2 separate regions of the Homo sapiens genome follow, and region 1 is linked to region 2. Evidence: fine-mapped expression QTL. A gene starts in region 2. The other region holds a variant in brackets. All regions are shown on one strand. Distances are from middle to middle.

The links. PIP is the estimated chance that this variant, and not a neighbour inherited with it, causes the effect.
Region 1: its variant is the best candidate, but not a certain one, in a credible set for the expression of TNRC6B in fibroblasts (GTEx, PIP 0.70).

What each region holds. Positions count from the first base shown.
Region 1 is chr22:40,381,167-40,386,166 of GRCh38, forward strand. All of the region lies in intron 1 of SGSM3 (small G protein signaling modulator 3), which reads left to right. It also overlaps a transcript of ADSL not described here. Among named protein-coding and RNA genes, the nearest start is that of SGSM3, 13 kb to the left of the region's middle. The variant T/C (reference allele first, on the strand shown) is at 2,027.
Region 2 is chr22:40,175,138-40,180,669 of GRCh38, forward strand. It overlaps TNRC6B (trinucleotide repeat containing adaptor 6B), which reads left to right and starts at 2,788. Exons shown (of 23, transcript NM_001162501.2): 1 at 2,788-3,003. The coding sequence starts at 2,999. RefSeq lists an enhancer at 2,627-2,676.

The sequences.
Region 1 (5,000 bases), 210 kb after region 2:
AGACAGGGCCTCATTCTGTTGCCCAGGTTGGAGTGAAGTGGTATGATTTTGGCTCATTGCAACCTCCACCTCCAGGGCTCAGGCAGTCCTCCCACCTGAGCCTCCCAAGTAGCTGGGACTACAGGTGTGCACCACCACACTCAGCTAATTTTTTAAATTTTTTGTAGTGATGAAGCCTCACTATGTTGCCGAGGCTGGTCTCAAACTCTTGGGCTCAAGTGATCCTTCTGCCTTGGCCTTCCAAAGTGCTGGGATAAGAGGAATGAGCCACCATGCCCGGCTACAAGGCATTTTAACGATGCAAGATAGTGCATTTAGGAACTGGAAATACAAACTGAAGTATTATATTATTACTCCAAATTTAAAAGGTAAATCTAGAAGCTAAATAACTGGAGTCCTTTAGTTTCTGGAAAAGAACAAATGATAAATAAGCATGAGAGCCCTTTATTACTCCCCAACATGTATGTAAACTATTGTGCAATTTGTTGTAAGTTAATAATTCTTGGGGCCGGGCGTAGTGGTTCACACCAGTAATACCAGCACTTTGGGAGGCCAAGGTGGGAGGATTCCTTGAGGCCAAGAGTTCAAGACTGGCCTGAGCAACATGGCAAAACCCTGTCTTTACCAAAAATATATACAAAAAACTAGCCAGGCATGGTGGTATATGCCTTAGTCCCAGCTACTCAGGAGGCTGGGGTGGAAGGATGGTTTGAGCCCAGGAGGCAGAAGTTGCAGTGAGCCAAGATTCGCGCCACTGCACTCCAGCCTGGCAGACAAAGTCAGACGCTGTCTCAAATAATAATTCTTATTTTATATTACAGATTTGTCTTTCTATCAGATCAGAATAAAAGCTCCACAGAGACAGGATTTTGTTTTGTTCACTGTCCTGTCTAGGATCTAGCCTAGGGTGTGACACAGAGTAAGCACTCATGATGTGAAATGAGAGAATAAGAGTGGTGCCTGCCATGTGAGGTCAGGATAAGTTTAGGACTCATCAATCTGAAAAAGTAAGAGTTGAGAGGAGACTGAAATTTAAAATGGCATTATGTTAACAGCTACAACATAGCACCAGTTCTTCCATTTATCTATTGCTGTTTACTGATCACTCCAGAATTTAGCAGCTTAAAGCAACAATAATCATTTTATTACTATCTCTTGCTGGGGGATTGGTTGTTGGTAGGTAGTTTTTCCTGGGGTATCTCAAGCAGTTGCAGCTAGGTGGGACTGGAGTCATGTCTAAAGTTTCCTTAGATGTCTTGGGGTTGATGGTGGCTGTCAGCTGGGTCCCACCTGGGACTGTTGGCCGGAGCACCTATATGTGACCTCTCCATGTTACCTTACCTACCTCACAGCATGGCAGGTGTGTTCTAAGAGCTAACCTCCCAAGGGAACAAGGTGAAAATGCATGACATTTTTATGACATAACCTCAGAAGCTACACAATATCACCATATTCTCTTGGTTAAGGGAGTCACAGAGGTTTGCCTGGGTTCACGGGGAGTGGATGGGACGTAGACCCCACCATTCAATGGGAGAAGTTTCGTCACATTTGAAGAAGAGCATGTGTGAGATACGTTATATTGTGTTAGCCCATTTTTGGAAAATAGGATCTCCATGCCAAGCATGTGATAGGGGTTTTAAGAACTTTTTCACTTATTCTGCAGGTACCTATTATCCTAATTTTACTGATAGGGAAGCTGAGGTTAGGGAAGATGAATTGGCCACACAGCCAAGTGGCAGAACAAGTTGTCAGGCCCAGGCCTTCTTGCTTCCACAGTAACACTGTATAAAGGTGAAGGTAGATTTCTTCAGAAAGTCCTGAAATACTATGGAAGGTTTATTTGTGTAGGTCATAAAACAGGTAATTAAATATCTCATGAAACAGGCGATTACTACTTCAAACATTTATTAAATCCCTAAGTACTGTAGTAGGTGCTAATGAGGATTCAGCCCTTGAAGAGCTTTCAGTTTATAGATAAGGCACCTACACTAGTAAAGTGAGATAGAAGTCAGTAGGAACGGCCGGG[T/C]GCAGTGGCTCACACCTGTAATCCCAGCACTTTGGGAGGCCGAGGCGGGCAGATCACGAGGTCAGGAGATCAAGACCATCCTGGCCAACACGGTGAAACCCCATCTCTACTAAAAATATAAAAAATTAGCCCGGCGTGGTGGCAGGTGCCTGTATTCCCAGCTACTCGGGAGGCTAAGGCAGGAGAATGGCGTGAACCTGGGAGGTGGAGCTCGCAGTGAGCCGAGATCACGCCACTGCACTCCACCCTTGGCGACAGAGCGAGACTCTGTCTCAAAAAAAAAAAAAAAAAGTCAGTAGGAACAAGTAAATGTTGAGAGGAAGTACTAAGGAAAGCTTCACAGAAGTGGTGTTTCAGAGCTAAGCACTGAAAGAGGGATGGAATCTGGATATTTGGAAATGGAAGGTGGCCTTCTTAGCAGAGGACACAATATAAATAAAGGCACAGAGGCATGTTGAGACAGTAGTGAGGGGCCCAGTTGGCTAAAGCTTAGGGTACATGAAGGGAAAATAAGAGCTGACTCAAAAAGAGATTGGGGTCTATGGAATCAGAGCTGTGCTTCAGGGGATATTAACCTACTCTTTGTTTAACATAAACGGAATGATAATCTGGAGACACAGAAATCTTTAGGAGATTTTGACAGTGGCCCAGAAAAGTGGCAGGGAGGGTCTGGATTAAGGCAGTGGAAATGGAGATGGAGATGCTAGAGGTATTTTAGAGGTAAAATCAGTAGACTTGCAACTGATTTGATATGAGAGTAAAAGCAGGAGCCAAGGCCAGGCATCATGGCTCATGCCTGTAATCCTAACACTTTGGGAGGCCAAAGTGGGAGGATTGCTTGAGTGCAGGAGTTCAAGACCTTCCTGGGCAAGATAGTAGGACCTTGTCTCTAAAAATAAAAATTAGCAAGTCATGATGGCATGCGCCCGTAGTCCTAGCTACTCAGGAGGCTGAGGAGAGATGATTGCTTGAGCCTGGGAAGTCAAGGCTGCAGTGAGTCATGATCCCACCACTGCACTCAATTTGGGCAACAGAACAAAACCCTGTCTCTAACAACAACAACAACGACAAAAAAAAAGGAGCCAAAAATTACCCTAAACCTTAGGATCTGAATGTCTTGGGAGAAGAAACAGGAATATTAAAAAGAATCATCTGAGATAGAATAAAAATAGATTTATTCAGGAAACACAGATTTTAAGCCAGGCACAGTGGTGTGCAGCTGTATTCCAGTCTGGATAACATAGGGAGACCCCCATCTCCAATAAATAAACAAAAATTAAAAAAAAATTAAAAAGAAATACATATTGGCCAGGTGCGGTGGCTCACGCCTGTAATCCCAGCACTTTGGAAGGCCAAGGTGGGCGGATCACGAGGTCAGGAGATCGAGACCATCCTGGCTAACACGGTGAAACCCTGTCTCTACTAAAAATACAAAAAATTAGCTGGGCATGGTGGCGGGCGCCTGTAGTCCCAGCTACTCAGGAGGCTAAGGCGGGAGAATGGGCATGGATCTGGGAGGCGGAGTTTGCAGTAAGCTGAGATAGCGCCATTGCACTCCAGCCTGGGCGACAGAGCAAGACTCCACCTCAAAAAAAAAGAAATACATATTTTAATGTGTTGTGGTATATAGTCAAATGAAGCTATCCAACAATAAGTTGGAAATAATCTATGTTGTCATGGCTAGAGATAGAGATTTGTAATTTATATGACAGTAATAGCTAAATCCCCATTCAGAATAGGGATGGACTCCCCATTTGGAATCCATTAGGAATGGACTAAAAGAAAGAAGACTGATGTGGGGAATGTCTTTTTTGGGGGTCTGGAGAAAGAAGAGGCAGTAAAGAAGCAGTTAAATAGAGAAGAAAAAACAATATGGTCTGTGCCCTCAGAGTCATTGAACAGTTCAAGAAACCAAAGTAAGTCAGCAGAGTCTGATGCTTCAGGGAGTTTCAGGAAATGAAGCCATAGGAACTGGATTCCAAATAATGACTAGGAAATCACTGGAGACCTTAGAAACCAGTTTAGGTGGTGACAGAAGCTAGGGTGAAAAGCTTAAGGAGTGAGTTGATTGATGAAGCATGGGCGCTTTTAAAAAGTATGGCAGTGAGGCAGAGGGATAAGAGCTAGAAAGGTAACAGCTTGAGTGGGTACAGGGATAGTTGCTTTGTTTTGTTTTGTTTAATTCAGGGTTCAGGAGATCTAAGTATTTGCAGTGGACACGAAGCCATTGGAGAAGAAAAGACTGAAGATGCACAAAGGAAAAGAGTATAAAGGAAATGGGTTGAAAGGTTCTCGTGGGTGGAGAATTTAACGTAGGAAGGAAGAAAACCACTTTCTCTTCTGAGAGGGCGGGCAGAAAGAGCAAACAGGTGAAAAGCCGTTTTGACACGGAGAATAAGGAAGTTGAGGAAGCTTAAGTCTAATAAGCTGAGCTTCGTTAAAGCTGGAGTACAGTCCCTCAGCTGGGGGTGAGTGGCAGCAGAGAGTAGTTGGGTTTCAGAAGAATTATGAGAATGATTTGAAAGTATCGCTGAAGGAAATATGATGAAAAGTCAACTAGAGATGAATGAAGGTTGCTGAGCAACCGTGAAGATAAATAGCATGTGGCTTGTTCCCTAACTTTGTCCAGGAGGAACATGAGCAGAAAGAGCAGAGGAACAACTTTTTTTTTTCTTGAAGACCGGGTCTCACTCTGGTTGCCCAGGCTGGAGTGCAGTGGTGCAACCTCAGCCCACTGCAGCGTCGACCTCCCGGGCCCAGGCGATTCTCCTATCTCAACTTCCCAGGTAGCTGGGACTACAGGCGCACGCCACCATGCCCGGCTAATTTTTTGTTTTTTTTTTTGTTTTTTTTGTTTTTCTATTTTTAGTAGAGACAGGGTTTTGCCATGTTGCCCAGGCTGGTCTTGAACTCCTGCACTCAAGCAATCCATCTGCCTTGGCCTCCCAGAGTGCTGGGATCACAAATGTGAGCC
Region 2 (5,532 bases):
CACGAGGTCAGGAGTTCGAGACCAGCCTGGCCAACATGGTGAAACCCTGTCTCTATTAAAAATACAAAAATTATCTGGGCATGGTGGCATGTGTCTGTAATCCCAGCTACTCAGGAGGCTGAGACAGGAGAATCGCTTGAACCCAGGAGGTGGAGGTTCCTGTGAGCCGATACCATGCCACTGCACTCCAGCCTGGGTGACAGAGCAAGACTCTGTCTCAAAATATATATATATATGTTTTCAGCATATTATTTGAAATTAGAACCAATATTTTATTTAAAATATGTTTGTTCTGTTTCCAAACTTTTCATGCAGTTTGCTATTTAACACTTACAAGGCAACACATATAAATATTTGTATACAATAATATTCTACACTGGGGAATGGAGACTTAGCAAAGTTCAGTTTCATAAAGAAAGCATGTCCATCACAAATTAAAACAAGGTGGATGTTCAGTCTCCACACATTTTTACAAATCGAGCCAGCTACAAGCAAGTAGGCTTTCAGTAACTCATCTGGAAGGTATTGGAAGGATAAAAATAGACTAAATAATCAGAATTTCCATTCTAGTAGTTTCCTGCTTTTTCCTGCATCTCAATTGTCAGTGCAGGGCCTGGCTATTTCACTCAGTGCTAGGCAAAGACAGTGGAAGCTTGTTAAGCCACAGCTATTCAGGCTACCAGATTGTCCAGGCATTGGCCTTTGCCTGCCATGAAACAGCTCCTTTCCTGTCGTCATATCTGAGTGGAAAGAGCAAAGGCGGGAGACTGTATAAAGACCCAGAAGCCAGGATGACAACAAGTGTTGTGGGATTTTACAAGCATTCGTAGGTTCCTTTTCAAGGAAAGCCGGGTTTCTAGAATCCATCAGTTGTCTGCTGGCTGGCATGGCAGCCTAGTTTATGGGAGAAGCACACTAGGGAATCCTCCCTTTTCTGGCTTATAGAGATAGGTGGAGTCGATAGTCACAGGGCATTCTCATGCACTTTTTTTTTTTTTTTTTTTGAGATGGAGTTTCACTCTTGCTGCCCAGTCTGGAGTGCAATGGCGCGATCTCGGCTCACCACAACCTCCGCCTCCCGGGTTCAAGCGATTCTCCTGCTAAGCTCAGCCTCCCTAGTAGCTGGGATTACAGGCATGTGCCACCACGCTGGCTAATTTTGTATTTTTAGTAGAGACGGGGTTTCTCCATGCTGGTCAGGCTGGTCTCGAACTCCCGACCTCAGGTGATCTGCCTGCCTCGGCCTCCCAAAGTGCTGGGATTACAGGTATGAGCCACCGCACCCGGCCTCATGCGCTTTTTACCATTTTAGTTACTTTCTTTCCTGAAGCCGTCCTTAAAACATAGATGAATGCGAGTTTCTGGGAACTATGTGACCCTCATTCCCCTACATTTTTTATATTCAGGTGGCAGATTTCCTCCTACTCAGCCCAGCCCTTCTGAATAGGGTCCAAGTCATTGATTTATTCATTTATTTACCTCCTATGTGGTGTTTGGTGTGGAGCCTCACAGAGCAGTGAAGACGTGGTGTTTTTCCTTATACAGTTTACAGTCTCCTGGGGAAGACTAATGTTAAGCACATTCTTTCATAAATTGCAATTATGACCATTGCTCTGAAGAAGTAGTAAAGGATATTATGGGAGTGTTAACAGGAGGGCCTGGTCTGGACTGCGAGGGTCAAGAAGCCTTCCCAGGGTGGAGGCGAACTTTTGAGATGGCCAGGAAAAGATGAACAGAACTACTCAAAGAAGCCAAGTGCAGAGTTTCAGAGGTGAAAGAAACCAAAGATACCATCTAGGGAAGCCCAATCTCCGCCGGCTACCAATGAGAAAACGGAGGCCAGGCAGGGTGGGAGGATGGGTAAGGGACTTACTTACTTGCTGTTAGCAGTGAAGTTACACGGCCTGTGAGCCGCGGGGGCTGGAGATGCAAACCGAGCTTGGGTTTCTTAAGTGGGTAGGAGTGGAGATGTATATGCGAAGGAGAAGGGATTAGGAGTGGTGGAAACCAGGTAGGTTTTAATTTAGTGCCTAGGCTCCCTCAGCTGCAGAGCTACCTCCTGCGGTGGGGGAGGGGATTAAAGATGACTCAGACCTGCCCTAGCCCAGAGAAACTCCGTTTGCAGTGCTGAAGCATAGTTTTTATTTGGGTTTGGGGGAGGAGGTACTGAACACACATACAGGCAAAACAATAAGTGTAGAGTTCAGAATTGGGAAACCAGTCCCTCTTCTGCAGCTGTTCAGCTGTGTGATTTGGGATAAGTCACTTAACCTTTCTGAATTGCAGTTCAGTTTATACTTTTGTGCGTTTCTTTCAGTCTTTTTCTATACATTTTAGGAGTTTCTTAGAGATCAGTCGTGCCCTGTATTTCACCTCATTCTTTCAAAGCTAAAGCCTCTTGTTTGGTAGAGCTGTGTTTCAGCCCCTTTTACAGAGCAGTTTGCCAGCCTGTGCTTGCCCAAACATCTAGAGAATAACTAGCAAGCGAGCCAGGAGAAGATCCAGGAGCTGTAAGAATCGTTAGCAACTGAGCATATTTCTATAAACCAATAAAGGTTTTTCTGTTTTGTTCATCTGTTACCCTTATGCTGTTGCCACTTTCACATGCAGTGTCTGTAGGCGGAGAGTATGAGATAACAGCATTTCACAAATGAAAGTGAGTGGAAAAGGGCTGCTTCCCCTTTAAGGCAGTCTCAGCTCCAGCTCCCTCCCCTTTCCTGATTGACAAACCTACCCGAAGTCACATGATCTGCCTCTATTTGAAGGTCACAAAAAGCTGCTTCCTTTAGAGACAGAGAGGGAGAGAGAGAGCAAGAGGGAGAGTGTGTGAGAGAGAGTTAGTTCAAGCCAAAATGGCCGACAGAGTCTCTGCTGGTTTCTGAATATTTAAAATACAAAAAAACAGATAGACAAAAAGAATTCATTTTTTGGACCTTTTTTCATTTCCATTTCTACCTTGTATGCCTCAATTTGCTGGATTTAAGCACTGCTGCACTTTATGAGGTTGGTAAATATTTTCAATTTTTTTTAACCAATTGATTTATATGGATCTTGTCTAACCGTTTTCACTGGTGGTGTTGCAAATCGACATTTGTCTAGCATGGAGACTGGCTTCAGACATTTCGTGGATCTGTGTAAATCAGACCCGTGATGTACTTTGGTTCGGCATTTTAGAAATGGAAAAGACGTGGTAAAATATTTAGATTTTGAAGTGATTTAATTGCACTTTTAATGTATATGCAGATTTTCATCATCGTTTCTATCTTGCAATAAATGAAGCTGCGAGTAATTGGAAATTTGCTATTTAGAAAGAGGTTTTTAAAAAACACAGACCTCCCCCTCCCCCCTTAAATCTGCTGCAAAAATTTGCATAAATATAAATGGGTTTGCATTCTTTCGGCTGCTAAGGCCGACAAAGGATCTGGGAGGGCAAGCCCTAGAACGGGAAAGCCTTTTTCTATCTTTTTATTTTTTAAACTGGGCCCTCCTTCCTAGAGAGATGTAAAACCTAAAGTAAGACCTAATACATTTTAAACATCAGGTTGGGGGCGGGTGAACACCAGGAGGTTTGGGGTTTGTAGATTCCCCTGCTTGAAAACCTCCCAAGCAATATGTGGCTCACCCCTCTCCTTTCTGCGCGCGCTCATTTGCACTGGGTCTCTGTGTGTGTTCTCAAATGTGCAGCCAGATGCGCTTTTATTTTGATCCTGGATTCAACCAAAGGGTAGGACTATGTTGTAAACATGGTGTTTTAAAGATATGAACAGCTATTCACCGCGATTAGAAATTATTTCTTTATCAGTTCTCCCTGTGTATTAGCCTTCTTCATTCCTCACGAAATAAAATTTTTGTTTAATTTTACACAGATGCAAAACTGAGTTTTTCAGCATAAATTCATCGTGTGAGTGTGTGGTTGCCTGTTTCGGCCATGTATCCACTGCGAAGTGGTCATTTAGGGTCACATGTATAAGTAGCAGTCTATGTGATTGTTAGTAACCCCTGAAGCTGTGCAGTGCCTGAAGTTAAATTCCATTACTCCTAATGCAGGATTCTGGAAGCCTGAGAGCAGGGAGGAAAGAAAGCTGAAAACTTGCTTTCTCAGAGCCTCCTCCCCCTATCATTGTGAGAGTGTGATGTAATGCTTCTCGGTCTGGTGGGCTGAAAGGATTGTAGTTTGTGATGTGGCGGGTAAATTGCCCCCACCCCTGGGTAAATTACTCCACCCCCCTGAGCACATCCCTGGCTCTGAGAGGCCTTGTTTTCTTTTCTCTTTTTTTCCTAATTTGTATCCTCCTGATTTATGCTGTGGCATATTGGCATGAGAAAGAGACTGTTCTTCTAAATCTGTTACAAAGTATAGTTTAGAAAAGGCATTTAAAATATGCAAATGGGTTGAATTGTCATATCCCCATCATTAAATATGTAGACGTGGATTAAAGCTAATTAAGCATAAATGGAATAATTTTGATCAGAAGGGAGCAGTGTTTTTTGTTGTTTCCTTTTTAATTAATCTAATTATGAGATGCTTACTGGGCCTGAAAGTGTTAAAAAAGATAAAGTGGAAAAAATGCTGGACCATTTTGAAAATTTGACAGTCTGGAAGAGGGTGTGTGGTGCTTTCAAAAGCTTTATTCACTCTTAAAATGGATTGGCCTCTTGTGCTGAAAATGGCCTGTTTCTTTGGGCCAATTGTGTGTAGATGAAGGGACTTTCACGCTAATTTAACAAAAAGACTTTCCATTTGAATACATAAGATAATTAAAGCCCTCTGTCTCTAACAAGCAAGGATTTTATTATTTTAAAAAATTAATGTTGTTATGTTAGTAATGGTAATAAATACAGAAGTGACTGTTTAGATTCACTGTAAATTTTTTGATGATATAAATTCAGCTTTTGTGTAAGAAGGATTGGAAACATTACATTAAAGAGGTAGTCTGGAACAAAGTTGTCTCTAAATTTTTTTACGGCTTGAATTTAAAGGGAAAAGATAGAGAAATTACCTTAGTGATAGAGAATGTTGCATTGTGGTAGACCTAAAGGAAAATCAGCTCTGATTTTTGTTGCTGTTTTTCTGAAAATGAAAGCACTTTTTTGGGGCTTTGCTTGTTATATGATTCATTTTACACCTATTTCCTAAAGTTGGTCTTACTGAAGAGGAGATAAAACCTAGGCTTTCCATGTTTTGCCATTATCTTGTTTTTGTGGCTGTGTAAACATATGAATGGCAGGTTAATTCAGTTTGCAGAGAGGAGGAACCAGAGCAGGGTACCTGCTGTCTTAGGCAGAACAGAGAATGATACAATGAATGCCATTTGATTCTTTGAAATGTTTTTTATAAATATTCTTTTCCCCTGGATAATTAAAAGGTGAGATAAATAAGACCTGGCTTCACGTATGGGAAGCATTATGGCTCTGGTGAGTTGATAGCTCGACTGCCATTTTGGATCTCAGATCCTGCAGAGCCAATCCTTCTGGCTCACCAACACGATGGTCATCCAGAAGGAAATGAAAATGAGTAATCAATTAAGTGTG